Homo sapiens: one gene and its partners. The gene in region 3 interacts genetically with the main gene of each other region. Each region holds a gene or a part of one and is shown on either strand. Other genes may lie near its edges. The genes, in order: FIBCD1, RCL1, ATG7, HSD17B12, KAT8, CAD and CARS1.

Region 1 (4,356 bases), on a different chromosome or scaffold from region 3:
CTGCCTCAGCCTCTCAAGTAGCTAGGATTACAGGCATCCACCATCACACCTGGCTAATTTTTAAATTTTTTGTAAAGATGGGGTCTCACTATGTTGTCTCGAACTCCTGGGCTCAGCCTTCCTTGCTGGGATTCCGGGCATGAGCCACCATGCCCGGCCTGGAATTCCTCCCTGAGGAGCCGTCTTGGGGGCCTGTGGGCATTTGGTTAATCCCACCTCGAGCCACCATGAGGCTCTGGAACCTCTGCTGTTTTCCAGGCCCCTGGCCAGGGGCCGTTGCGGGAAGTGGGCAACCAGGCCCCTGCCCTCCCGAGAGGGCAGGTTGGGAGCAGGGTGAGGGGAGTCTCTGGGCGGGGTGGGCCCAGGTGGGCTGCGAGTCCTGGGATGGTCGGTGCCAACGCCCCATCCCCATCTTCCCTTTGCAGGTGTTTCAGCGCCGGGAGGACGGCTCCGTGAACTTCTTCCGGGGCTGGGATGCGTACCGAGACGGCTTTGGCAGGCTCACCGGGGAGCACTGGCTAGGTGAGCACCCCACCCACCATCCGGCCCAGGTGGGCCTCCTCCCCCTGCCTTCCGGACACAGTTGGGTCCCAGCTGCTCCCTGAATGGGTTTGGGCTGGGTTTCCCTGGCCTCGGCACACCTGAGCCAGCTCACAGGTGTCATGCATGAAGGTGACAGGCATTCAGAAGGAATGAGGCCAGACATTGCCAACGGAAGTGTCAGCGTGGGTGGGCTCCCAGTGCTCATAAAGGCTGAGGGTCCCACATGCCCTTGGAGGCCACTTCCTGCCGGGGTCACCCTGGGACCTGCTGGCTGTCCTGAATCAAGCCAGCTTGGGCAGGTGGTCAGCAGCATCCCAGGCAGCAGGAGGACAGAGGAGGACCCGGCCCCACCCTGCCCAAGGGTGCCAGGGACACCAGGCATGGAACTCCCAAGAGTGGCCAGTGGTGCTGAGTGTGTCCAGAATTGGTGGGTTCTTGGTCTCACTGATTTCAAGAATGAAGCTGCAGACCCTCGTGGTGAGTGTTATAGCTCTTAAGGTAGCGCGCCTGGAGTTTTTTTCTTCTGATGTTCGGATATGTTCGGAGTTTCTTCCTTCTGGTGGGTTCGTGGTCTAGCTGGCTCAGGAGTGAAACTGCAGACCTTCACGGTGAGTGTTGCAGCTCATAAAAGCAGCGTGGACCCAAAGAGTGAAAGAACAAAGCTTCCACAGCGCAGGAGGGAACCTGAGCGGGTTGCCGAGGCTGGCTGGGGCAGCCTGCTTTTATTCTCTTATGTGGCCCCACCCACATCCTGCTGCTTGGTAGAGCCCAGTGGTCTGTTTTGACAGGGGGCTGATTGGTGCGTTTACAATCCCTGAGCTAGACACAAAGGTTCTCCACCTCCCCATCAGATTAGTTAGATACAGAGTATGGACACAAAGGTTCTCTAAGGCCCCACCAGAGCAGCTAGATACAGTGTGTTGATTGGTGCACTCACAAACCCTGAGCTAGACACAGGGTGCTGATTGGTGTGTTTACAATCCCTGAGCTAGACATAAAGGTTCTCCAAGGCCCCACCAGAGCAGCTAGATACAGAGTGTTGATTGGTGCACTCACAAACCCTGAGCTAGACACAGGGTGCTGATTGGTGTGTTTACAAACCTTGAGCTAGATACAGAGTGCCGATTGGTGTATTTACAATCCCTGAGCTAGACATAAAGACTCTCCACCTCCCCACCAGACTCAGGAGCCCAGCTAGCTTCACCTAGTGGATCCCGCACCGGGACTGCAGGTGGAGCTGCCTGCCAGTCCCGCGCCGTGTGCCTGCACTCCTCAGCCCTTGGGTGCTCGATGGGACCGGGCGCTGTGGAGCAGGGGGTGGCGCTCGTCAGGGAGGCTCGGGCCGCACAGGAGCCCACGGAGGGGGTGGGAGGCTCAGGCATGGCGGGCTGCAGGTCCCGAGCCCTGGCCCGCGGGAAGGCAGCTAAGGCCCGGTGAGAAATCGAGTGCAGCGCCGGTGGGCTGGCACTGCTGGGGGACCCAGTACACCCTCCACAGCCGCTGGCCCAGGTGCTAAGTTCCTCATTGCCCCGGGGCCAGCGGGGCTGGTCGGCTGCTCTGAGTGTGGGGCCCGCCAAGCCCATGCCCACCTGGAACTCCAGCTGGCCCGCAAGCGCCGCACGCAGCCCCGGTTCCCGCTCGCGCCTCTCCCTCCACCCCTCCCTGCAAGCTGAGGGAGTGGGCTCCGGCCTTGGCCAGCCCAGAAAGGGGCTCCCACAGCGCAGCGGTGGGCTGAAGGGCTCCTCAAGTGCCGCCAAAGTGGGAGCCCACGCAGAGGAGGCGCCGAGAGCGAGGGAGGGCTGTGAGGACTGCCAGCACGCTGTCACCTCTCACCAGCCAGGGCTCCTGTTTGGGCCTGGAGGCAACCGCACGCCTTCCTGCCACTGGGACACAGTCCCTGCCTGGCACAAAGTAGGAGCTCAGAAGGTTCTGTCAATATCATTACCTATGTTTAAATTCACTCAGTATTTTAGAATTTTTGAAAGTCCTTAACATTTCTTTTTTTTTTTTAACATTTCACTATCTAAACAAAATATTCTAAACAAAACTTCATTTATCTAAACAAAACATTTATCTTAACAAAACATCCTAAAAGAATCACAACTTTGAGGTCCTATCTACCTATATATATTTGGGAAGTGGCTATGGCTTGAAATGAGGTGGATTTTTCTGGTTGTTCTTGAGATATAATTTACATACAACAAAATTCCCTGTGTGGAAGTGTATGACCCTGTGGTTTTTAGTATATTCAGAATATTACAACCATTGCCACTGGGTCCAGAACCTTTTCCTCACTCCAGAAGGAAACCCTGTACCCCCGGGAGCAGTCACTCCTTGCAGGTTTTGAATATACATGAAACGCACAGGTGCTGGGGAATGTGTGCCCCGAGTGTCATCTGGGCGGCCTCGAATGCCCCACAGTGTCCTCCTGCACTTAAGCCCCCCGGGTGTGTGCGGACATCCAGGGAGTTCCACAAGCTGTGGGGGTTGGGGGCGAGGGGCGGCGGAGGGGGCGCCTTGGGTGGGAGGGAGGGAGAGGGTAAGAAGGGTGAGGACATCCCGGGAGTTCCCCAGTGCGGGGCAGAGCTGGTGGTGGAGGGAGAGGGTGAGAAGGGTGTGGACATCTGAGGAACTCCCCTGCGAGCGAGCGGGGTCAGAGCTGGTAGGGAGGCTTAGGCGGGAAGGAGAGGGTGGGCCTGCGTGCCTGGCGGGAAGCACCACCTGAGAGGCTGAGAGCGCAGGTCTGGGCACCAGCCGGGGTCAGGAGGGCTCCAGGCCTGTAAGGATGTTCAGTGACACCCCTGGAAGATGGGGGGTCGGGGGCCCCAAAGGCAGGGTTGGGGTGGTGAGGCGGGGCCGCCCCTCTGTGTGCATGGAGGCCCCTGGGCAAGATCTGCCACCCATGCCCCCTCCTCACCGGGGCCCATGAGAGCAGGGCCCTCTCTGACCTGCCGTGCCCTGGTGCCCAGGGGGTGCCGACAACAGGGAAGGTCACACCCCGTGTGGACTTCATGCCCACACCCCGTGCTGACCCCCAACCCACTGAGCACCCAGCTACACGCTTCCCATGCATCGTCCCCAAAGCCTCACACCCACCTAGTTGGGGGCCCTGCTGTCGTCCCCTCCTTTTAGAGATGAGGAAGTTGAGGCTTAGGAAAGGGAGGTCCCTTGTCACAAGCCTGCGTGTGTTGGGGTTGGGGGAGCCCCAGCAGGGTCTACACACTGGCGCCCAACCCAGCTCGCCTCATCCCCGAACCTGGTGGGTGGAAGGAGGGGAGATGGGGAGACCCTGCCTCAGGCTCCCCAAGCTGGGGGTAAAGATAAGGACAAGGCGGCAGGGCCAAGGCATGCCCTCGCCACCACCCACCCCCTGGAGCAGCGGTGATGCCCGTGCTCATGGTATCTTAATTGAAATCTATCAGCAGCTGCAGATGATGCGGGAGGAAGCATTTAAGCAGGTCCTCATTCCAGCATCCTGCAGACGAGCCCTGACAGGAATGTCAACAGCGCCAGTCCCTCCTCTGCCGCACCACCCTCCCCATCCCCTCTCAATGAGTGCTTTGTCTTTTCCTATCGAGTCATGGAAGCTCTCTATATATTAAGGTTACCGATCATTTGTCCAACACATGATAGGTATTAACTTCTGGCCATTTGTCTTTCAGCTTTTTCTTTTTCTTTTGTGGGGTCATGTTATTATTTATTTCCTAGAAATTTAAGATGTTTATGCACTCAGTTCTGCCACCCTTTTCTTTGTATCTTTTCTGGGTTTTAGCCCCTGCTTTCCTTTCCTTCCCTTCCTAGTTTTATTTTTTT
Region 2 (4,356 bases), on a different chromosome or scaffold from region 3:
AGATTCCATTCTTTTCCAGTTCCCTCTTAGAGAAGGAAAAGAAGTACAATAATGTCTCCCATGTACTGGGCATTATTCTAGGTGTACATATGTATGTATGTGTATATCCATATCTGTTTAATTCTTCTACCAACCCAGTGAGGTGGGTGTTTCAGACAAGGTAACTGGAGAGCAGGTTTCTTCCTCTCTTTTTTCTTTTTTTAGCATAGATTGATTACATTTTTACCTTTTGATTGATTGACTGCGCTGTAATGGTAATACCTTTGCCCTGAGCTGCCACTTAGGGTTTGATCTTTGCCTTTTCTCTCTGACCGCAGAGTGGACCGATCACTTTCCCTTAAGCAGAACTTACAGGCCACCATCACTCTGCTAAAACTAGAATGTGCAAAGCTGCAGGAGACTGGAGAGTGTTCGGCCCAGCCTCTCATTTTACGAAGGAGGAAACTGAGGCCCAGGAGACAGGGAATTGTCTAGGGTCTAACAGCCAGTGAGAGGCAGAGTAGGTCCCAAGCCCTCATCTGCTTTTCCTGCCCTTGTCCCACCGCACCAAGTTGCCTGTCTTCCATGTCATATGGAGAGTGATAAAGGGACAGGACTACACCTGGAATTACCCTTGGGCTTCTTGCTGAACTAAGTAAATTTGGCTTCACTCTTTGTGACTCAAGGTATAGGAAGGATGAGCCAGAAGGAATGCTGTGTTTTTTCACCTTTTTTTCCCTCGAGAGAGCCGGTGGCTGCCCAGAGTAACTGCAGCATTGCATCCCCTACTTTTTCAGAATCTGACTTGGCCTTCTCCCCAGCTGCTCTTAAGCCTCGACTGTATTCTTCTTTATCTGGCAACGCCAAATGCATATATTAAGTTTTTGAGTGTGCTTTATTTTTTTATTTTTAGAGAGAGGGTCTCACTCTGTCTCCCAGGCTGGAGTGCAGTGGCATGATCGTGGCTCACCAAAGCCTTGAAGTCCTGGGCTCAAGTGATCCTCCCACCTCAGCCTCTCAAGTAGCTAGGACCACAGGCGTGCAGCATGCCCAGCTTATTTTTTTTTAGTAGAGATGAGGTCTCACTATGTTGCTCGGGCTGTAGCTTTAATATTTAAAATTAGCTAATCTTCAGTGGTTTTCCTAGTTTCCCCTGCCCCACCTGATCCATTCTAAGCATGTTCTTAGGCCTCACAGGTCATTCCTAAGTCTGGTATTTTTCTGATATCACAATATTTAGTTGGGGCTTCTTAGCCTGTTAGAGTTAGTTGTAACTTGGAGATGGCTGGGCTTGAGCCCCTTGCCTTAGAGATAAGGAAATTCAGATAGTTGTGATTTTCTTGTCTGAGGCAACATAGCTAATTAGAAGCAGAGCTGGGACCAGGACTAGGGCTTTTCCTATGCCTTCTGTGTGGTGCCTGCCCTCCCTGCCAGCTGACAGATCCAAGAAGGGAACAAGTAATGGAGTAATTTTCTTTCCCATGTAGCAGTTGAGGCAACATTTGCCAACTCGTTAGATAACAGTACCTGATTTGAATGCCATCTTTCTACTCTTATCAGGAATCCACAAATGGATCAGAAAGACCCCAGACTTCCTGGGAGCTCTGAATGCAGGAGGAGATAACAGTTACACGTGGCAAAGTCTTGCCATTAACTATGGATGTTGTAACTAATTGTAGTTTTGAGTTTGTGCTGCTTCCTGTAGTTTGAGGCTGTCATCACCCCGACTCCCCAACTCCCATGTAAAATCATCACCTTCCCTTTAGCTGCCTGTGTGGTGCTCATCATTGGCATTCTTAGGTGAGCTGTTGAATAGTTAATTTGGTTTGCTTTGACTCGGAATGCTACCGGCTCTAAACATTAAATAACCCTACTGGACAAATGTTAATGAAAAAGATGATTTTCTTCTGTACGTTTATACCTATAAGAATGAGTAGGGTTCTCCAGGCTGGGTGTGGTGGCTCACACCTGTTATCCCAGCACTTTGGGAGGCTGAGGTGGCAGATTACAAGTTCAAGAGATTGAGACCATCCTGGCCAACATGGTGAAACCCCGTCTCTACTAAAAATACAAAAATTAGCTGGGCGTGGTGGCACATGCCTGTAGTCCCAGCTACTCAGGAGGCTGAGGCAGGAGAATCGCTTGAACCTGGGAGGCAGAGGTTGCAGTGAGCCTAGATCGCGCCACTGCACTCCAGCCTGGTGACAGAGCGAGATTCCACTCAAAAAAAAAAAAAAAAAAAAAAAAAGTAGGGTTCTCCATTTGTTTTCTACAACAGTCCAGTCTCTCCATGCTTTTTGCATGATGCCTCTGATGCACACGATGACTTTAAGGTAGGTGTTGGTCTCCATGTCATGAATGAGGAAAGTGCGGCTCAGAGAAGCCCAGTGGCCTGTGAAATCACAGTGTTCCTCAGGCAGAGCCAGCCCACTCGCTCAGTTATATGCCAGCATCCTTTCTGTTTACCACACTGCATCATCTACCTGGTTGCTAAGCCTTACTTGTTTTTTTTGACTCTTGTATTCTGCTGAAGGCTTAATTAAACTTTTCTTTTCTGAAATAATTTCATAGGTTGATGTTCTTAAGGCAACAGCACTCCCTTTGTTGAAACAATTTGGGATTGATGGTGAATCATTTGAACTGAAGGTAAGAATGTTTGAACTGTTGACCATATGTTCCTGTGGAAAACATTTTCCCACTGACTCATTGGAAGAGCTGTGTGACTCAGTGTATGTGTGTCACATTTGAAGTCACCAGTTATCAGAAGACTCACAGGGCTCATGAAATAAACACTACAGACTTTGAACTGAAAGGGACCCTTTAGTAATAACAATAGTAGCTGACAGTGATGTTGCACTTCTTTTGCGGTGGGGGCCGTTCTAAGCAGTTTACAAATACTAACTCCTTTTCTCCTCACAACAGCTCCGCCCATGTGCCTCAGCTAGCAAGCAGTGGAGAATAGATTTGGGCCATATTGGCTCTCTGATCTAAATGATCTGGATATAATTTATGTTCAGGGGCTCCCAACCTGGATGTCCCTGAGAATTTTCAGTATTTCCAAAATCTAGTAGAAGTAGTTTAAGCATCTGTATTTTGTTGAATTATATCAATCCAATGTGGTAAACCGTTTAGCATCTCTGCCTTTTACATTCATGTTTTAAACAGGGGAAATGACTTCATTTTTATTTAATAATGTTTTGGTAGATCCGTTATTTGCATGGGAGGAGAAAAAGGGGTTTCTGATTATTAAGAAATGGGCTCAGATGATGGACTAGGTCAGCTCTATATTTTAAGGATAAAGAAGTGACCTGTTCAGGGTTAAAGAGATGAGTGGCAGAGCCACTTGGGTAATCGACTTGGACTTTGACACATGCTGCACAGGTACTCTCTAGGAGCCAACATAAGGTGCTGTTGGTCTTGAAGGGAATGACAGATTGAATATGGAAGAGCTATGCCTTGTAAGGAAGCATCTGCTGGTGTAAACCTTCCTGGGCAGGGTGTCAGGGTAATCCATTGCTTTGCTGCATCCTCGCCTCATCTTTCTCACTCTCTGTGTAGATTGTGCGACGGGGAATGCCTCCCGGAGGAGGAGGCGAAGTGGTTTTCTCATGTCCTGTGAGGAAGGTCTTGAAGCCCATTCAACTCACAGATCCAGGAAAAATCAAACGTATTAGAGGAATGGCGTATCCTTTCCATTTATTTGGATTTCTTTTTTTTTTGTTGTTGTTGCCTCACTAAGATAAGAATGACTAACAGCTTTACTTCTTCCCGAGGTTATTTACATTTTAGACTACAACTTTGAAAAGTCTTAACAGTGAAATTGTAATTGCTGGCTGAGTTAGGATGTTCTGTTATCTGCCTCACCATGACTAGATTGATTGAGTCATTCTTTTTTTTTTTTTTTTTTTAATTTTCCGGTTAACATTTAGGCAAATGGCTCTGATGTATGTGATCCTCTCTCAAGGGCTTTGGTTTGGGGGCCATGAATATACTGCAGTTCCTCCCTCAGAAGACGTCATCATTCGGTGAAGGAACCAAATATGAAAACACACAGTTCTGATATAACATGCAAAATGATATGTGCAGTGGGGTGGGGGCCTGGAGTAGACAGTGGTCAATTTTGTCTGGAGGACCTAGGGAGGCTGGAGTAATCATAATGAATGATATCTACTATTAAGTATTTACTCTGCATCTACTTCAGTAGTCACTTTACATGCTTTTAAGCCTCACATTGACCCTTGAGTTCACTTACATCCTTTTTTGCAGATGGGGAAACTGAAGCTTCAAAAGCTTAAGGAATTTCTTAATAATGTCACACTGCTAATAATGACAGAGCTAGGATTTGAACCTGGTCTGTGTGACTCTAAAGTACAGGCA
Region 3 (4,356 bases):
TTCCAGGCTTTCCTGAGATACCACCCTAACCAAGTGAAGGATAGTGTGCCTGAATCCGACAAGCAGACAGGCAGTTAGTCTCAGGGACAGGTTTCTGGTGAATCCCTCAGAGCACTTCAGAGGAGACCCCAGAGATTTGTTGTCTTTCAAAATATACTGCTGTTGAAACATAAAGGAAGTGGATACATATTGAGCATCTACCATGTGCTCAGCATTTTATTCACATTATCATGTTTAATCCTCACAAAACCTTATAAGGAGGTGGCATTACCACCATTTAACAGATAAACTAATACAAAGAAAAGTTATGCAGTTTCCCCAAGGTCAAGGGAATGGTAGAAAGGCCATAGGCTTGTGGCCGGGCACAGTGGCTCACGCCTGTAATCCCAGCACTTTGGGAGGGCGAGGCGGGAGGATCACGAGGTCAGGAGTTTGAGACTAGCCTGGCCAATATGGTGAAACCCCATCTCTACTAAAAATACAAAAATTAGCTGGGCATGATGGTGCGCACCTGTAGTCCCAGCTGCTTGGGAGGCTGAGGCAGGAGAATCACTTGAAGCCAGGAGGCGGAGGTTGCAGTGAGCCGAGATCGTGCCACTGTACTTCAGCCTGGGCGACAGAGCAAGACTCTGCCTCAAAAACAAAAAAAAAAAAAAAAAAAAGAAAGAAAGAAAGGGCATAGGCTTCGGAATCAGACAATGTGGTCGTGTGACTTTGAGTCTCAAACAGAAAATGCAGATACTAATTAACTAACCACAGGTAGTAACTAACGCTTGTTTCACAGACTTATCATAAAAAGATCAAGTATGTGAAAGTCCCTTTTAAATTAATTGTAAAGCACTGTTCAAACTGTTATTATTTTGGCAGAGCTGCACTTTGGGGAGGACCACTTATTTACCACATACAACCTGACCTACGGTCGCTTCCAAACACAGGCCATTTAATCCTGCCTGCTATGACAAGAGGACTTCACACTAGATTGGACTTTAAATTATTAACGGTCTTATTGCTATACTAATTTAGCTGTGGTTCTGTGAAATCACCTGGGGGAAAGAATTTTAATAAAAATTCAATCTTCAGTCCTCAATTTAAAAAGGGCTTCCTCTGGGCCAGGAGTGGTGGCTCACGCCTGTAATCTCAGCACTTTGGGAGGCCGAGGTGGGCGGATCACAAGGCCAGGAGATCAAGACCATCCTGGCTAACACGGTGAAACCCCATCTCTAATAAAAATACAACAAAAAAGGGGAGGTGGGCTTCCTCTGAAAAATAAAATGTAAATGTAGTTGATTTTAAAATGTGCTTTTAAAAAAAAAAGTCATCCTAAGTTCAGGCTAAAGAATAACCAGACCGTCAGTTAAAGGCTTTCCTTTTTTCAGCTCTGATATATTCACATGGCTATGGAGATGATTCCATTTGATTTCAGAACTTCATAACACTCATAATCTTTGATATTTTTAATTCATAGTCTCCTGTATGGCTAAGACAACTTCCTATATATCTGATCACTTCTAAAAGACATTTACGGTACTCTTTCATTCACTCAAAAGAATTTTATTGAGGGCCTCAGACAAGTACTAGACACTATGCAGACACAAATTCATAAGACTTGGGCCCTGCCCTCTTGGAGCTTACAGTCTAATATGGCACAAAAAGAAACTTGTACAAGGTACTGGACCTGCAAATGAGGATCAGGGAATAAATGCAGTGACTTCAGATAGGGATAGATCATATATGGCCACACCATGATAATGCTTCACAGTGGAGATAGAATTTCAATAAGACAGAGAGAATTTCTTAGGGTTTTCACAAGTAGAACATGTTTTAGGAAGATGATACAACACGAGGAAAAACAAAGATACAAAAAAAGTTTTAGATGTATCTGACGGGAAGGGGATGGAGATTCTGGAGAAAAATAGATAAGATTAGCTGGAGCAATGCTTTATGAGGAAAATAATGGAAGATAAGGCAGGAAAGGCAGCTTGGAGCCAGAAGGAAGACACCATTATGCTCTTGGTCAATGAATGATACACTAAATGTGGGTAGTTCAAGGGAGATTCTTCTACAGTAGTGTTGCACAACATGGAAACAAGATTCTAAGTGTCCAGGAGTGTGATATGAGGGGCCTGAACTACAGGGTAGTTCTGGGAATAAAAATTAAAACATAGAGGGTAAAATACATCAGGAGGGAAAACGGAAATAACTTTAGCACTAATAGAGAGTAAGGTATTGGCTGGGCACAGTGGCTCACACCTATAATCCCAGCAGTTTGGGAGGCCGAAGCAGGTCACGCATTCAAGACCAACCTGGCCAACATAGTGAAACCTCGTCTCTGTCTCTACTAAAAATACAAAAAATTAGCCAGGCATGGTGGCGGGCACCTATAGTCCCAGCTACTCGGGAGGCTGACCAGGAGAATCGCTTGAACCAGGAAGGCAGAGGTTGCAGTAAGCCAAGATTGCGCCACTGCGCTCCAGCCCAGGCAACAGTGCGAGACTCCATCTCAAACAAACAAACAAAAAAAAAGAGTAAGGTATCAAAATTATTCTGAGCTGTAGTAGAGCTAGAAAAACCTAGAGGAGCTGATTCGATAACTGTAGGGGTGGGAGAGGATAGAGATAAGGAAATGTTCTTAAACATCCTTTGAAGGCTAAGGAAATCTAAACAAGTTTGAATTTTGCAGTGGTCTCTTGTAACATGAACTTCAGATTTTTTAAAAAACTATATAATAAAATGATACTCAAAGTTTATCTGACCTTCGTCCTTTGACCTTGGAAGAAATCACTGTAGTGTTTAAGCAAGGAAACCAGCACCATGTTCTCATCATACTTGATTAAGAAGTAAGGAAGAGCTGTGACTCCTTCTGTTTGACAAAGATTATCATATGCACACTCTAGTGCTTCAATCTGAAAACAGAAAACACGTTGTTATTCTCTAGAAAATTACATTTCTAGTTCTGGGCTAAAAACTAACTCAAAAAAAAGGTACCTTAAAACCAGAAGACTAGAAATGACTGATCACACTCCTCTTACTCTATTACAGCAAGTGAACATAGAAGTGCCTCCAAATAATACCACTTAGCTTTTATATAACACTTTCCAGGGGCATGGTGGTGTGTGTCTTAGGGGCACAAAGGGACTACAACATGGTAGTTCCCTAAGCTGTCAATCAGAGTTTTAGAGCGGTAACGAAACATTCTTTCTCTCCTATGATAACCCAACATGAATCTACCCCTGATGAATTTTACCCCGAACCTTTCCATAATCTTCAACAGCTTTACTGAGACATGACTAACATACCATACAACTCACCCATTTACTACTTTTTGAGACAGGGTCTTGCTCTGTCACCCAGGCAATCACAGCTCACTGCAGCCTCGACCTCCTGGGCTCAATCAATCCTCCTACCTCAGCCTCCTGAGTAGCTGGGACCACAGGCACACACCACCATGGCTCAGCTAACTTTTTTGGTATTTTTTATAGCGATGGGGTTTCACGATATTGCCCAGGCTGGTCTTGAACTCCTGAGCTCAAGTGGTATGCTCACCTCTGCGTTCCAAAGTGCTGGAATTACACTATAGTTGTGAGCCACCGTGCCTGGCCCAATTCACCCATTTAAAGTACATAATGCAATGTGCTGTTTGTTTTTTTAGTATGTTCACAGGGTTATGCAAGCACCACAGCAATAATTACAGAACATTTTTGTCCTCAATAAAAGAAACCCCATACCTGCCAGCAGTCAATACTCAGCCAAAATCCTTTTTCCTTACTTATATTTCCTCTTGGGAAATTAGTTCCACAAAACCACAACCTCGGATTTGTACGAACAACAACAAAAAAAATTTAATCAATAATGGCTGCTCCCTGAACAGCTCCAAGAGAGCTCCCTGAATGATGGCATCAGTATTCAGGGCTTTAGTGATTGATGTGTTTCAAGAATTCAAATCATCTTGACACATAATCTTTGCCTTAACAACAATAAGAATTCTCTAGTTTAGGGTCTCTGTTATACCAGCCTGATTATTTTAACTGCTCTTCTGGGAACCATCTCTAATGAACTTATTATCTATCCCAAATGTCACCGACTAACTCTGCATGTACTGCTCCAGGTAGAAAAGTTCTGCAACTTGGTACAAGGGTAGGAGAATGCCTTCTGTTTTGTTTCAAAGACTCTTTCCCAGACTATACTGCCTTATGTTTCCCCACATTGAAAATGAAGACCACATTTTGGTAAATTCTTTCAGTGTTTCAAAATATTCCTATAATTCCCCCTTACTGGCTTAGCATTTCACCAAATACCACTGAAAACCTGGAAAATTACTGTGCACTACATCTTCAAAATGACTTTACAGACCAGGCA
Region 4 (3,545 bases), on a different chromosome or scaffold from region 3:
GTTATTTCAAACTACAGAAGGACCTCTTGTATCATGACTCAGGACTTGTTACAATAGGGTTTCCTTATACTCTGTGTTGAATCACATCCAAAATGCAGCAAGCTTAAGCAATAAAGAACCTAACATTATTGAAGTTCCTCTAAAGGTCATGTCCAGATTTGTCACCCTACACCCATCCAGTCAGGTGTCTTTTAGTTACCCAAACAGTTTCCATATTGTTAGACTGTGTTTCTTCTAAAAAAGAAAAAAAGGGAGGTGGTTCTATCTTATCAATAAAATTGTTTATAAAACTCAGAAGTAGAATGGTGAGAAACTAGGGAAGAAAAGTAGTAACGCAAGTCTGAGAAATAAGATGTCTATTTTAGAAGGATCAAAGCTGATAGAACAAGCTTAATTAGCCATAAATTATGGAGAAAGTTGGCATTATCCCATTAGAAGAATAAAGTATCAAAGATCTCCTACTTGGTGGTTCTGTCTCAATGTTGAGTTTACTAAGTGTGAAAAGTATCCTATCCTGAATCTGTGCTCTCTGGATTATTTAATGCTTTCCTTTTTAAAGGTTCAAAAAGGTAGATTTCTGCTTATTTTTAATACTTTCTCTGGTCTCAAACTCTGTTTTATTGAGAGATTGATTTGTTACAATTTGTTTTATGGTATCATGTGTTCTATCAAGTTGGCTTTAGATAGCCACTTCTCTTTTCTTCTCTCTCTGTAAAGATACAGATGTTTCTACCACTAAGAGCAGTCAAGCACCACTGTACATTCTGAGTTTGTGGCCTTACTAATCAATGGCATGTTTTCTGGGGTGGGTGTTCCCTTTCTAGAGTGTCCTGCCATACTTCGTAGCTACAAAACTGGCTAAAATCCGGAAGCCAACTTTGGATAAGCCCTCTCCGGAGACGTTTGTGAAGTCTGCAATTAAAACAGTCGGCCTGCAATCCCGAACCAATGGATACCTGATCCATGCTCTTATGGTAGGTAGATTTTTTGAATCACAAATCAATACTTTCTGGCTTGGGGTTTCTTTCCCATTGAGTTACAGGATAGTATGTAATAGATTAGCACATATACATTGTCCAGCCATAGTAACAAGATATCTATATCTTGTTATAATTATAATGGTCGTATACCCAAGAACTTTAAAATCTACCTATAAATAAAAACAACACTATAATAAAACATTAAATCATATGCTTCAATTTAGCCCAAATTGTAGGCTATAATTACATATCTCTCTCATTCTGTTTCCCTAGGGCTCGATAATCTCAAACCTGCCTTCTTGGATTTATTTGAAAATAGTCATGAATATGAACAAGTCTACACGGGCTCACTATCTGAAGAAAACCAAGAAGAACTAAGCATTGATAACTGCATTGTAACTTGGCCAGATGCTCCAGCATATGCACGTTCACTGCAAAGCACCCTACTGGTTTTGAAAATCTGACCTTGTCATTTCAATAGTTATTAACATGACTAAATATTATCTTAATTAAGAGGAAAATAGAAGTTGCTTTTAGGGGTTTCTGACATATATTCTGGATACTATCCGAGGTAATTTTGAAGTTTAATATAAATGCTCATATCAAATGAATATAGAACTAATATTGTCGGGAACACCTAATAGAAAGGAATACTATTATAGCAAATCACAGAATGATAGACTCAAGCATAAAACTTGGCAGTTTTATCTGCTTCAAAATGCCATTGATCATTATTCCTGTATTTTCTCTGAAACTGATTATAAAAACCAATGTCCAGCTACTCTTTTGTTTTTGACACTTGAAGAAATGGAGATCGATTTGATTTGTTTATAAGCAGACACACTGCAATTTACAAAGATCTCTTTACGGTTTTATAAAATTATCTTCCAGTTTGTACATTTATATGGAATTGTTCTTTATCAAGGGTAGCTAATGACATGAAAATAATTGTGAAATATGGAATTATTTCTGACACATGAAGCCCACTAAACTATGCTTTCTTATAATGCATATTTCTTCTCAGTTTAAATGTATGTAAATATCGAAGCTATATGGTATGATTTATAAAGATAAATGGGCCAAAGTGTACATTGAGACTGGCAGCCATCTATGGTACCACTGAAACCCTGACCCAGAAAAGTGGCTTGCTTGGACACCCAGCTGCCTTTGTTTCTGCATTAAACCAATATTGATCACACATATGACACAGGCTAGTCCTATAAAAGTAATGACTTCATAGAAATGGCATTATAATTTTTAAGTTGATACTCTACAGGTAGCTATTGATATAATTAGTTTTAATAAAACATGCTGCAACCATGGTATACAACAAAAATACATTTCTTTGGTGATTGAAATTAAGGCCGTATTTACAATGACTTAATATAAGACTGACTTTTATCCTGCTTCATAACTTGTATGGAGAACTCACCAAGAAAGAATTCAATACTGTGAAATATGCAGCAAGAAGATTGGTCTTTACCTAGGCTGTGTTTCCTAAGCTCTGAGTTTTCAGCACCAGTAGATTTGTATTAAAAGAAAAAAAAATGGGGCCTTAGCTTCTGGCTTTTAATTTTGCCAGCTAAGGACATAAAACAAAAATAAACAAACAAAAACAAATAGCCATCTGCTATCAGCATCATTATGTAAAAGAAAATATATTTTAGCCCCTAAAATTAGGAAGAATGTAATCTCAGAATAAAGGTTGTCATTTAAGTTGAATAAATATATAGCTTTATGAAAAACACATTGTTTGCCCTTTTTTCCTCTCATTTCATTGTAGAAATGGTGACACCACAATGACCTGGACAGTATTTTATCTGCTTTCACACATTGGTTGGTTAGTTGGTTGGTTGGTTGGTTGGTGAGTTGGTTTTAGTGTAGTGGTGGTAGATAGAGGAGGGATTCTCTTGCAAGTATACAAAATACTCTCTTTTTCTTTTATCCCAGTTAGAAAATAGTTGTAGGCTAAGCACAGTGGCTTACACCTGTAAACTCAATGCTTTGGGAGGCTGAGACAGGAGGATTGCTTGAGCCCGGGAGTTCAAGCCCAGCCCGGGCAACGTAGCAAGCTCTTGTCTCTACAAAAAAATTAAAAAATAAAAAATTAGCCAGGTGTGGTGGCACGCACCTGTAGTCCCAGCTACTTGGAAGGCTGAGGCAGGAGGATTGCCTGAGCCCAGGGATTAGAAGCTACCGTGAGCTATGATTGAACTACTACTGCACTCCAGTCTGAGTGACATAGTAAGACCCTGTCTCAAAAAAAGAAAGCAGTTGTAATTCTGGCTAGAAAATCCCTTAAGAATTTCAAAACTTCTGAGCTGTGGCTTTGATTGCTTCAACTTGGCAAGCACCCACTTGTATTTGACACTCCAGGGTGAAGGTGATGACGTAAAAATGTATTTTTCTAGGCACATGAAAAGAAAAATTATGTTAAAAGAGAAAACAGTATACTCCAAACCTTCAAAATAGTCAAGTAAAAATTTCAGACTTAACTTTATGTTGACTTGATTTTATGTTCTAATGCATACTAGATAAGATTTGAACACAGACGGGCCAGGCGCA
Region 5 (4,356 bases), on a different chromosome or scaffold from region 3:
CTGGCGCTGACCAAGACAGTGAAGGATGCTGTACAGAAGAACTCAGAGAAGTACCTGAGCGAGCTCGCAGAGCAGCCTGAGCGCAAGATCACTCGCAACCAAAAGCGCAAGCATGATGAGATCAACCATGTGCAGAAGGTCCGGATCCCTTCCCATCCACGGGCCCAGGAGGCCCAGCTTCTCTGCCAGTTCCCTTGGGTCTCTCGGGCCCCAGTGCCAAAACCATAGCAAATCCCATTTCTTAAGCTCCTGTAGTGTGTCAGGGACTTTACCTACTTCCTCTTACTTACTTTTCATAGGTAAGAAAACAGACAGAGGGTAAGGGCTTCGCTGCAGTCTCACAGCAAGGAAATGGCACAGCTGGGACTAGAACTCAGGCCTCCGGCACTGGTAGCCTCTTTTGTCTCCTAGTAGCTGTGTCTTAGTAGAAAAAATGACTTGAAGTTCAGTGGGAAAGACGAGAATGTTATTCGGCAGTTGCTATAGCCAAGCACCCTGCCAAGTGCTGTATATGTATAAGCTCCTCAAATCCTTCCCAACAATTCAACACACAGGAATAGTTACTTTTTTGGTAGGTGAGGAAGCAGGCTGAGAGAGATTAAGTAACATGCCCAAGGTCACACAGCCAGTAAAACGGTGGGCTGGAATTAGAATAATAATGCCAAACACTTGTTAGCCGGTGAGCAGAAGTATTCAGCTAAATGGTTTTTGTGTGTGTGTGTGTGTGTGTGTGTGTGTGTTTTGTTTTTTGTTTTTTTTTTTGAGACGGAGTCTTGCTCTGTCGCCCAGGTTGGAGTACAGTGGAATGATCTCGGCTCACTGTAAACTCCGCCACCTGGGTTCAAGCAATTTTCCTGTCTCAGCCTCCCAAGTAGCTAGGACTACAGGTACCTGCCACCACGCCCGGATAATTTTTGTATTTTTAGTAGAGACGAGGTTTCGCCATATTGGTCAGGCTGGTCTCGAACTCCTGACCTCAGGTGATCTGCCCACCTCGGCCTCCCAAAGTGCTGGGATTACAGGCGTGAGCTACTGCGCCCGGCCTAAGCTAAGTGTTTTAATACATGACCTCACTGACATTTCACAGTAGGCCTGTGAAGTAAGCATGCAGAAGAGCTACAGATAAGTTTAGGGACCCAGACAGGAATTTGATCAACCAGCTAAATTGTGCTACCTCAGAGCCAGAGGCCTTAGCAATGATTTTGGTTTTTTTCTTAAGAGACGGGAGTCTTGGTGTGTTGCTCAGGCTGGACTTGAACTCCTGGGCTCAAATGTTCTTCCTGCCTTAGCCTTCTAAGTAGCTGGGACTACAGGAGTGCATCCCTGTACCTGCCTTGGTTTTTTCTTGTATTGATACTTAATAATTGTACATATTATTGTTATTTTTTTTTTTTGAGACAGCGTCTTACTCTATCGTCTAGGCTGAGTGCAGTGGCACAATCATGGCTCACTTCAGCCTCAACCTCCTGGGCTCAAGCAATCCTCCTGCCTCAGCCTCCTGAGTAGCTGGGACCATAGGCACGTGCCACCATGCCCAGCTAATTTTTTATTTTTTTGTAGAGACGGGATCTGCTATGTTGCCCACACTAGTCTCAAACTCCTGGTCTCAAGCGATCCTCCTGCCTTAGCCTCCCAAAGTGCTGGGATTACAGGTGTGAGCCACTGCGCCCGACCAAGTCTCAGTTTCTAAATTTATAAAAATCAGGAGTGCACACCAGAGCAAGATTTGTCAAAGTCTCCAGACACCCAGACATTTGTTACTTTCAGCTATTGCAGCTTCATCCTTCTGAGTACATGAGTTAGTGGGCAAGCCCAACATTTAAATTTCTTTAAATGGAAGAAAGAAAGTGGATAAGATAGAAAAATCAGGGTGTTGCACTTTATTAAGTGTAGGTATTGTTTTGAGAAGCTTTTATTTCACACCCAATAAAAGTGTGCAGGATTCCTCTTGTTCCAGCCTTACCTTCCCGATGATCCTAGCACATACTTGTGTGTATATACAGACATGTTACAGTGCCAAGTGTACTTCCTACTGTGGTGTGATTTAAAAAATTGAAATACCCTAAACTGGAAGAACTCCTCAAGGTCTAAACTGCCGAATCGAACTTCCTATTGTAATGGAAATGTTCTATAGCTGTACTATCTAGTACCGTAGCCACTAGCCACATGTAGCTGTTGAGCACTTGAAATGTGTCTAGTGTGACGAAGAATTAAGAATTTTAGCTGGGCGCGGTGGCTTACGCCTGTAATCCCAGCACTTTGGGAGGCCAAGGTGGGTGGATCACCAGGTCAGAAGATCGAGACCATCCCGGCTAACATGGTGAAACCCCATCTCTACTGAAAAATACAAAATAATTAGCCGGGCGTGGTGGCGTGCACCTGTAGTCCCAGCTACTCGGGAGGCTGAGGTAGGAGAATGGCGTGAACCCGGGAGGTGGAGCTTGTAGTGAGCCGAGATCCTGGGCTCACTCCAGCCTGGGTGACAGAGTGAGACTCCGTCTCAAAAAAAAAAAAATTTTTAAATTATGGGTGCAGTGGCTCACGCCTGTAATCCCAACACTTTGGGAGGCGGAGGTGGGTGGATCACTTAAGGTCAGGGGATTGAGACCAGCCTGGCCAACATGGCCAAAACCCCATCTCTACTAAAAATACAAAAATTAGCCGGGCGTGGTGGTGCACACCTGTAATCCCGGCTACTTAGGAGGCTGAGGCAGGAGAATCGCTTGAGCCCAGGAGATGGAGGTTGCAGTCAGCCAAGATCATGCCACTGCACTCCATCCAGCCTGGGTGTCCGATCAAGACTGTCTCAAAAAAAAATTAATTATCATTTTTTAAAAAAATTTTATTTTTATTTTTTCGAGACAGAGTCTCACTCTGTTAACCAGGCTGGAGTGCAGTGGTGCGATCTCAGCTCACTGCAACCTCCGCCTCCCAGATTCAAGTGAGTTTCCTGCCGCAGCCTCCCAAGTAGCTGGGACTACAGGCACGCACCATCATGCCTGGCTAATTTTTGTATTTTTAGTAGAGATAGGGTTTCACTATGTTTGGCCTCAAACTCCTGACCTCAACTGATCCGCCTGCCTCGGCCTCCCAAAGTGCTGGGATTACAGGTGTGAGCCACCGTGCCCAGCCAAAATTTTCATTTTTTGAGACAGAGTCTCACTCTGTCACCTAGGCGGGAGTACAGTGGCGAGCTCTTGGGTTACTGCAACCTCCGCCTTCCTGGCTTAAGCAATTTTTGTGCCTCAGCCTCCCAAGTATCTGAGATTACAGGCGTGTGCCACCACACCCAGCTATTTTTTATTTTTTATTTTTAGTAGAGATGGGGTTTCGCCATGTTGGCCAGACTGGTCTGGAACTCCTGGCCTCAAGTGGTCCTCCCACCTCGGCCTCTCAAAGTGCTGGGATTACAGGCGTGAGCCACCACGTTTAGCTGAGTATAATTTTAAATAGCCCTATGTGACAAGTGGCTACTTTATTGGACAGTGTAGATCTAAGATTAATTCCTCAACTGTTTTGCACTCAACAAAGACATACCTCTGAGTTGGCAACCAGCAGGGTGGATAACGGGCCAGTGGTGATAAAATCAAAGAATAGGTAATGAAACAATCATCCAGTTAACAATCAGCAAGGTTCTTCAGAGCCTAATTAATGTTTAATTCTAAATAAATTGCAACAATTAAGAAAAGTAGTGTTTTTGTAGTTCTTTATTGCATTTGCAGAAGAGTACTGTATTTTGTGAGAATTGGGAAATGTGTTTTAAAGAGATGTGTGAGGAGGAAAATCTTTCTTCCTCATCTTTACAGTGGTTAGGTTCAGAATTGGACAGACCAGGGGCCCATGCCCAACTCTGCTGAGTACCAGTTCTGTGACCTTGGGCAAGTGACCTCACCTCTTTGTGCCTCAGTTTTCTCTCATACAACAGGGACAATGAGCACTCTTATTTCAAAGGCTCATTGTGAGGAACAAAATGAAATAATGTCGGCTGGGTGCAGTGGCTCATGCCTGTAATCCCAGCACTCTGGGAAGCTGAGATGATTGGATCATTTGAGGTCAGGAGTTCGAGATCAGCCTGGCCAATATGGTGAAAGCCCGTCTCTACTAAAAATACAAAAAGAGGCCAGGCGCAGGCAGACCACGAGGTCAGGAGTTGGAGGCCAGCATGGCCAACATGGTGAAACCCTGTCTTTACTAAAGATACAAAAAATTAGCTGGGTGTGATGGTGCACACCTGTAATCCCAGCTACTTGGGAGGCTGGGGCAGGAGAATCGCTTGAACCCAGGAGGCGAGGTTGCAGTGACGTGAGATTTTGCCATTGCACTCCAGCCTGGGCGACAGGGCGAGGCTCCATTTCA
Region 6 (4,356 bases), on a different chromosome or scaffold from region 3:
CGTACGTTGCATTCAATAACTTTCAGCTGGTCATCCTGGGGCAGAGAAGACTGGTCAGGCCTTCTGCAGGTTGGCCTTGCTGACACTATCTATAGGCCTAGACTCTTCCTCTCCGTCCTCAGCTCTGGGGGATCAGACTGAGCAGGGTTCAGGGTCACTGACTGTCATAAGCCCCAACACCATGAGCTCTAGCTACAGCCCTTTCCCTCCAGCTTCCCTGCCTACTTGGATGAAGGCAGGAGACAGTGCAGGGCTTCATGGCACTGTGGCCAGCACAGAACATGCAAGAGCTGTGGCCCTTTAGTTCTTTCCTTTAGCCTTATTACCTTGGCAATGAGCTGCAGATTGAAGGGTCCTGTGACCTGTAGCTCCTGGCCCACAGCATGCACAATGGCTTTGATCCGCTCCAGGGTTTTGGCAGTGATATCTTGTGGGGGGGTCACCAGCGTCGCATCACCTGAATGCACACCTGCATTCTCCACATGCTCAGAGATGGCGATGGCTGCCACCACACCATCAGAGGCCACGGCATCCACGTCAATCTCCTAGCGGGGGGACACAGACAGTGGGACATAGGGCCACTTTCTTCTCTCACTTACTCTAGGATTGTCTCTTCCTTTAACGAGCCCCACATAGCCCACTGTTCCCAGCCCTGGTGCCTATGATTCTGCTGGACCAGAGAAGGAAGTCTCCTCCAGGGCTGGCAGCATGCCCTCAGAGACTTCACTGTCTGCAGCCTCCCACCTTAGCCTCCTGGATGAACTTGGAGATGACCACGGGATGCTCTTTGGAGACGGCTGCTGCGCTGCTCAGGAAGCGCTCCAGGTCTCCATCCGTGTAGGCCACATTCATAGCAGCACCGCTCAGCACATAGGAGGGGCGCACCACACAGGGGTACCCCACGGTCTGGCAGAATTGGCGAGCAGACTACAGGAGGCAGGGAGCTTAGCTGAGTTGTTCACACTTTCCCCCAAGCATCATCCAGCCTCCGGGTAACCCACCAGGTCCCAGCCCACCTCGAGGTCACTGAGCTCCCTCCACTGAGGCTGGCTGATACCAATGGTGTCAAGGAGCCGGGAAAACTTGAAACGGTTCTCAGCCGAGTCAATGGCTTCAGGGGAGGTGCCCAGCACCCGGCACTGCTGCCGATGCAACGCCATGGCCATGTTGTTGGGCAGCTGTCCACCCATGGATAGGATCACACCTTCAGGGTTCTCGAGCTCATAGATGTCCATCACCACCTACGTTGCAGGGGGAGAAACAAGTGGTGGCAGCAAAAGAGGGCAGGAATCTGAGCCTTCCTGCTCACTGCTTCCCTCAGCCGCCACCAAGTTTCAAAGAATCTTAGGTCAGCCAGCTGTTCTACTCGACCCTGGCCACTCAAGCTACCAGGAAGCCTCCATCTCCCTCACCTCAAAAGAGATCTCATCAAAGTAGAGTCGATCACACATGTCATAGTCGGTGCTGACTGTCTCTGGGTTATAGTTCACCATGATGGTCTTATATCCCATCTGCAAGAGGGAGGGGAAGGGTACTTAGCAGTCAGGTGGGAGGAAAATCGTGGAGAAAATCGTGGAGAAACTAAGCCAAAGCCCCTACTTCAGAGACTGCCAGCACAGCTTCCTCTGAAAGAGCTGTACAGGACCCCTGCCTTGGGAGGGAAGGAGGTACAAAGTGTTGGGGAAGAGATTCATATACCGTGTGGGGCATGAGAGATGGCCTAAAAGGACCCCCACCCCAAAGCTCTATGACCAAAGTAAGGGACGGCAATTAATAGGAAATGCCAGGATTAGTGCCAAGCAATTGCTAGAGATGAACAGAATAGCAAGGAAAGTGGAAAGAAAATGAACTCTCTGACCTTTCGGAGCTGCTGGATGCAGCCTACAGCACACCAGTCAAATTCAACGCTAGAGCCAATACGGTAGACGCCAGAGCCAAGGACTAGGACATGAGGTGTTCGAAAGGTGAGGTCATGGGTGGTGCCCCAATACGTTAGGTATAGGTAATTTGTCTGGGCTGGCCACTCAGCTGCAACTGTGTCAATCTGTTTCACTGCTGGACAGATCCCCAGTTCCTGACGCAGCTTGCGAACAGCCAGCTCTGTGCTAAAATAGAAAAAGGGTCTGAAACACAGGCCCAGAGAGTAGGGTACAGACTGATAGAGGGTTGAGACCCCAGGGCACAGATGAGAGGAAATATCCTTGGAACCAAGGTCAGAAGCCTCTAAAGCTCTCCCACACTCTCCTTCCTCCCTCCCAAGGGTCCCTCACTGATACAAAGGTTCTGCCCCACATTTCCCAGCCGGAAGCTCTCATTGCCACCTCTGACCTCAGAACTGCAAGGGCAATCTGTTTGTCTGAGAAGCCAAGACACTTGGCCTGTTGCAGCAGGTCTGGCGGCAAAGGCTGTCCACGGTGTTGTTCTAGCAGCTGGGCATGTGCGATGATACGCTTCATTCGGTGCAGGAACCAGCGGTCGATGCGTGTGAGCTCATACAGGCGGTCCACTGAATAACCAGCCCACAAAGCAGCTGCCACCACAAAAATCCGCTTATCTGTTGGAGTCTCCAACTCCTGATAGAAAGGGGGTAGACAGACGGAAGCTACTGCCAGCCCATCTAAAAGCCTGAGCGTAAGTAGCTGCTCTTGTCTCAGGAAGGGGAAACTGTACACCAGAGCACAGGCTGTGTAACTGCAAAAACCTGGATACCAATCCTGGGTCTACCTCTCATTGGCTATGTGGCTTTGAGTAATTTCTATAACCTATGTCTCAGTTTCCTCATCTGTAAAAACAAGTCTAGTAATACACCCTTGCGTGCTAATGAGACATCTCAAAATTCTCAGCAAAGTGGAAACAAAGCAAATGTCCAATGATGACTGCTGCTAGTGTTACTGGTAACAAGCTCATGGTCTGGGGGCGATGAGAAGCAGGGTCTATTTTAGGGGTATTGCCAGGGGAGGGGAGCTACTTACCATATCGCTGACTGGTTTCACTGTGTGATCAAAGCCCACACAGTTCTCATCCACCATGCGCAGGGCCTTCTGGAAGGCCTCCTCAAATGAACGCCCAATGCCCATGACTTCACCTGGAAGAACAGAATGGAAGGAATGAAGGTGTGGAGGTGGAAGGGGTGGGAAGAAGGCACTGCCCATAATGCTTATGGTTTATAGTCAAGACTCTGGGAGATTCTCAAGGCAAGTCACATGATGGTGGGATTCATGGTGTTTCACAACTAAGAAATCTTAATGGCCGGGCGCAGTGGCTCACGCCTGTAATCCCAGCACTTTGGGAGGCTGAGGCGGAAGGATCACGAGGTCAGGAGATCGAGACCATCCTGGCTAACATGGTGAAACCCCGTCTCTACTAAAAATACAAAAAAATTAGCCGGGAGTGGTGGCGGGCGCCTGTAGCCCCAGCTACTCCAGAGGCTGAGGCAGGAAAATGGCGTGAACCCGGGAGGTGGAGCTTGCAGTGAGCAGCGATCACACCATTGCACTCCAGCCCGGGGAACAAAGCGAGACTCCGTCTCAAACAAAACAAAACAAACAAACAAACAAAAAGAAATCTTAACTTATAGCTCTTTTCCCTGCTATTTTCATGGATAAGCTCAGGCTTTGTGCTTATTGATGAATATGGAATCAATATGCCTAAAACGGGCATGGGGATACTGGAATATATCCCCATACACTGGATACTGGAAGTTTATCACAGTGGCCCAAACCACTGATGGCTGTCCAGTTATTGGGTTTGATTTATTCACATAATCATAACACCAACTGGAATTCTTTAAAACTTTTTAAAAAAGTGTAGATAATAGGAAGATGATCCTTACTACTCATCCATGCAGAGCAAATCACATTTACAACAATCATTTTAGAGTTTCTCTTTCTGGACTTTTCTTCATAGGTTCATAGGTTTTTTTTTTTTAGATGGACTTTCGCTCTTGTTGCCCAGGCTGGAATGCAATGGCACGGTCTCGACTCACTGCAACCTCTGCTTCCTGGGTTCAAGAGATTCTCCTGCCTCAGCCTCCTGAGTAGCTGTGATTACAGGTGCGTGTCACCATGTCTGGCTAATTAGAGACGGGATTTCACCATGTTGGCCAAGCTGGTCTCAAACTCCTGACCCCGTGATCCACCCGCCTCGGCCTCCCAAAGTGCTGGGGTTACAGGCGTGAGCCACCGTGCCGGGCCCTTCATAGGTATGTTTTACATATCATCACAGCATACATATAATTTCCATCCTGTGTTTTTTCCTCATCATACATTTTCCCACATTGCCACATGGCCTCATCAACACCAACTTAATTCTTTCTTGAGACGGAGTTTCTCTCATCACCCACGCTGGACTGCAATG
Region 7 (3,354 bases), on a different chromosome or scaffold from region 3:
CAACTGAAAACCAATCAACTGAGCCCAGTCAATCCAGAGCCATGAGTTATTAACATGATCATTGTTGTTTTCAGCCATGAAGTTTTGGGGTGATTTGTTAAGTGGCAACAGATAACTGGAACATGTTTGTTTTACTTTGTTTGGGGGACTTTTCTTTCTTGCTGGTTTAAATTTTTTTATATATAAAATACTGACAAGGTTCAAAGTCAGGCCTATCAATACCCAGAGACTGTCCTCATTGATTTATAACCTTAGTGCTCCCTGCATAATTGGGTGGGTGCTCTCAAGCTGTGCCAAGCACCCTGCTGATGCACAGACAGGCTGGTTCCAGCCTTTTGCTGTGTCACACACTACTGCAGTAAACAGCATGCGCATGCGGAGGGCAAGGACAAAGAATTGGCGCACCCACAACCCAACACTGCCACACTCCCCATGCTGAGGCTGCTGCCACCATCCACATGCACTGGATGGAGTGTCCCCCCCTGGATGTCCACAGCACCAATGACTGTCTTTTGTCCCGATGGATATGGCCTGGCACCAGCTTCCGCAGGCATGAAGCAGGCTGTGGTTTCTGCTTACGCCCTCCTCAGCCAAGGATGGGTAAGCACCTTCGCGTCTGGGTGGTGATTCTTAGTCCAGGTGAACCAGGTGTGGAGGCAGGGTGGCAAGGACAACACTGGGCACTGGGGACAAGAAGGCCCCTGCTGTGTTGAGACCACCCCCACAACTCACTCATTAGCCATGCAGATCCTGGACTTGCTGTCTCCAGCGGCAGTTCTGGGCAGCTCGCCAGGGGCCTGCCTGCTGAGCCACTCGCTGTGCTGCTGCCCAGTATGGAACGGCTCTAGGAAAACCTGCAGTGTGTTTATTCATCAGAACCCGAGGGCAGACTGAGCGGCCTTTGTCTAGGGCTCAGCAGGCTCTGCCAGTCTGAGCCTGTCTTTTTCCTACTCAAATACCTCCCAATGTGCCCACACACCAGAGATTAGCCGATAGCCATCAGCATGGGGGAGAAATTCCTCGGCCAGCTGAAGCAGCTCAACTGACCCAAGCACCTAAGTTGTGACCTGCTGACCAAGCGGCCCTGGCTGGCCACCAGGCCTCCTGCCAAGTGCTGAACATGCAGAACAAGACAGAGAGGGTCTCACTGTTGAGAAAAATTTATTATCAATGTCTCAGAGCCAACGACGACACGAACCTACATGAACACAACTCTTAATTTAGGACCCAAGGGTGACTGTAAACATGATAGGAGCGCTGGGACATTGTCACTGAGGCAGACAGCAGCCACTAGTCCACAATGGTTTAAAAAGTCAGTCCTGTGCCCCCTCACTGGAAGCTTCCATTCTGGGCCATCTGCAGATATTCCTTGTAGAGCTTCTCCTGAGCCTCGAAGAGCTTCTTCAGCTTCTTGGCTTGCCCTTTGCTGAGCTCTTTGCCCTCCATGTCATGTGTGGGCAGACCCTGAAAACCCAGAGCACAGCGGCTATTGGTCTCCTCTGCACCTGGGTAACCCCAACTCCCCTTTCTTTGCCCTCCCGTCTCAAAGTGTCTATCTCCCTGATGCAGCCATGTCCTCTTGCTTGGACATTCAGTCACCACACTGCTCTGGAGCCAGCACACTCATCTGGCAGTGCTGGCTCCAGCAGCTAAGAATGGGAGAGGGGCGACCAGAGTCTGGGGGTGCTTCCTGCCTAAGGTGAGGGGCACTGTGCCCCTCAGAGCCTACCCATGGCTGAGTTCTGACACAGCTGGCCCAAAGGTACATAGCAAACACATCCAAATGCCAGCAGGGAGGGGCCTAGAGGTTTGGAGGCAGTGGCTGTGAATCGCTATGACAAAGGAAGAAACTGGGGGTAGGAGGCCTATCTGCGCCACGGCACTTCAGCCAGCTTGTGAGGGCCTGGGTGGATCTTGGCCCGGGGCCACAACTCCCAGGGCTAGGGACCAGAGCTCACCACACCAGTGGAGGGGGCCCTGGCACGGGCTTGCCTAGCTGCCTGGGCTGTGGAAGGAGCTCAGTAGTTGGGCCAGGAGGCCCTGGACCTAAAGCGGGTGTCAGATTTGATTCCAAATTTTCTACAGACAGAAAATCTGCTTGTCCAAGGTTGAAAATTCCTGTCCTCCCACTTTAATGTGGTCTGATCAAGTTCTGAATAGAAGAGAAGGATGCTTACATGCTTACATTTTCATCAAACTTGGAGTATTTGTCGGTTTCTGACAAGAACATCTCACTGGGGGGAATCTTCATCTTGGCCAGCTTTGCTGCCTAGAACACGCAACACGGCACAGTCACTGCCCCCGAGCAGCACCTGGGGCTCCGCACTGTGAACGACATCTGCTCATACCTCCAGCCCTCAACTTGCTTCCAAGCCCTCAGATTCAGAGTGCTATGAAAGATGGGAAGGGGAAAGCCAAGGTGGAGGGAACATACAAGGAATTTAAAATTAAACCAGATGTTATTTCTACAGGAATAGTGGAAAGCTTACTAGAAAACCTAATAGTAGTAAGTCTATAAACGCTGTCTTGGAGCTTGTGACCACATGGCACAGCCTTCCCCTTGGCCAGGCCTTCCCTGCACCCCATGTGAGAAGGGCCTGGCAGGCCTTGGGTGGTGGAGGCAGAAAGCGGAGCTCCTTCTGTGAGGGTCTGCAGGGGCCTGGCTAAGGTCCACGGAGGCACAGAGAGCCACAGGGCATGGGGTCAGGGTGCACTCCTGCCCAGTAGAGCCCTCACCCCCAAACAAAATGCATTACTTCTTGTTCCTGTTTCCTCCGGGCCGCCTCCTCTTTCTTCTTCCTCTTCTCCTCTTCAACCTGGAGGGTCAATACAGAGCCAGATGAGACAGGGCTGCCTCAGGCTGCTGGGTCTCTCGGAGTGAGAGGTCTAGCCAAACAAGCCCCTCTCCTAGGGCCTGGCATGGAGGGCTGAACTCTGACCAGGCCCTCCCCACTGTGGGGAGACAAGCCCATGTGCCGGGCAGCACACCGACCCTCTTCCATTCCCTTTGGGGATCCTCAGCGGCACCCCTGGGTGCCTGGCCCTGCCCTAGATGCAAAGGTATGCAGCAGGCAGACAAACAGAACCAATGCTAAAAGATCCAGGCACCACTAACATGAAGAAATGGACCAGCATGGTGAGCCTGGCCCAAGGAGAGAGGATCTGTAAGGCAATGACCAGGACAGCACTGTGAGGGTTATCCTGAGTGGGTCTTGGGGTACCTGGGAAGGAGCAAGAGCGCCAGGGCAGGATGGGGATGGTGGGCGGAGGGCAGCCTTGGGGGCTAGGTGAGGAGACCAGAGCCCACTCCAACCAGCAGGCAGCACCCGGGCAGGGGCGAGGACAGTCTGATGC

What was found.
Region 1: of ATG7 (region 3) and FIBCD1, changing one suppresses a phenotype caused by changing the other (phenotypic suppression), as found in Homo sapiens cells (one large-scale study listed by BioGRID).
Region 2: of ATG7 (region 3) and RCL1, changing one suppresses a phenotype caused by changing the other (phenotypic suppression), as found in Homo sapiens cells (one large-scale study listed by BioGRID).
Region 4: of ATG7 (region 3) and HSD17B12, changing one suppresses a phenotype caused by changing the other (phenotypic suppression), as found in Homo sapiens cells (one large-scale study listed by BioGRID).
Region 5: of ATG7 (region 3) and KAT8, changing one enhances a phenotype caused by changing the other (phenotypic enhancement), as found in Homo sapiens cells (one large-scale study listed by BioGRID).
Region 6: of ATG7 (region 3) and CAD, changing one suppresses a phenotype caused by changing the other (phenotypic suppression), as found in Homo sapiens cells (one large-scale study listed by BioGRID).
Region 7: of ATG7 (region 3) and CARS1, changing one suppresses a phenotype caused by changing the other (phenotypic suppression), as found in Homo sapiens cells (one large-scale study listed by BioGRID).

What each region holds. Positions count from the first base shown.
Region 1 is NC_000009.12:130,907,958-130,912,313, reverse strand, and holds part of FIBCD1 (fibrinogen C domain-containing protein 1), read left to right. Parts: intron 1-425; coding exon 426-522; intron 523-4,356. UniProt on the Homo sapiens protein: Acetyl group-binding receptor which shows a high-affinity and calcium-dependent binding to acetylated structures such as chitin, some N-acetylated carbohydrates, and amino acids, but not to their non-acetylated counterparts.
Region 2 is NC_000009.12:4,830,604-4,834,959, forward strand, and holds part of RCL1 (RNA 3'-terminal phosphate cyclase-like protein), read left to right. Parts: intron 1-2,550; coding exon 2,551-2,625; intron 2,626-3,537; coding exon 3,538-3,662; intron 3,663-4,356. UniProt on the Homo sapiens protein: As part of the small subunit (SSU) processome, it plays a role in 40S-ribosomal-subunit biogenesis in the early pre-rRNA processing steps at sites A0, A1 and A2 that are required for proper maturation of the 18S RNA.
Region 3 is NC_000003.12:11,313,891-11,318,246, reverse strand, and holds part of ATG7 (ubiquitin-like modifier-activating enzyme ATG7), read right to left. Parts: intron 2,904-4,356; coding exon 2,754-2,903; intron 1-2,753. UniProt on the Homo sapiens protein: E1-like activating enzyme involved in the 2 ubiquitin-like systems required for cytoplasm to vacuole transport (Cvt) and autophagy.
Region 4 is NC_000011.10:43,853,891-43,857,435, forward strand, and holds the end of HSD17B12 (very-long-chain 3-oxoacyl-CoA reductase), read left to right. Parts: intron 1-824; coding exon 825-974; intron 975-1,253; coding exon 1,254-1,358; 3' UTR 1,359-2,725; downstream 2,726-3,545. UniProt on the Homo sapiens protein: Catalyzes the second of the four reactions of the long-chain fatty acids elongation cycle. This endoplasmic reticulum-bound enzymatic process, allows the addition of two carbons to the chain of long- and very long-chain fatty acids/VLCFAs per cycle.
Region 5 is NC_000016.10:31,120,377-31,124,732, forward strand, and holds part of KAT8 (histone acetyltransferase KAT8), read left to right. Parts: coding exon 1-138; intron 139-4,356.
Region 6 is NC_000002.12:27,230,197-27,234,552, reverse strand, and holds part of CAD (multifunctional protein CAD), read right to left. Parts: intron 3,086-4,356; coding exon 2,973-3,085; intron 2,574-2,972; coding exon 2,329-2,573; intron 2,106-2,328; coding exon 1,859-2,105; intron 1,512-1,858; coding exon 1,413-1,511; intron 1,242-1,412; coding exon 1,017-1,241; intron 928-1,016; coding exon 745-927; intron 546-744; coding exon 327-545; intron 36-326; coding exon 1-35. UniProt on the Homo sapiens protein: Multifunctional protein that encodes the first 3 enzymatic activities of the de novo pyrimidine pathway: carbamoylphosphate synthetase (CPSase; EC 6.3.5.5), aspartate transcarbamylase (ATCase; EC 2.1.3.2) and dihydroorotase (DHOase; EC 3.5.2.3).
Region 7 is NC_000011.10:2,999,785-3,003,138, forward strand, and holds the end of CARS1 (cysteine--tRNA ligase, cytoplasmic), read right to left. Parts: intron 2,817-3,354; coding exon 2,757-2,816; intron 2,391-2,756; coding exon of another isoform or gene 2,358-2,390; exon of another isoform or gene 2,270-2,357; coding exon 2,186-2,269; coding exon of another isoform or gene 2,178-2,185; exon of another isoform or gene 2,109-2,177; intron 1,465-2,108; coding exon 1,330-1,464; 3' UTR 1,145-1,329; downstream 1-1,144. UniProt on the Homo sapiens protein: Catalyzes the ATP-dependent ligation of cysteine to tRNA(Cys).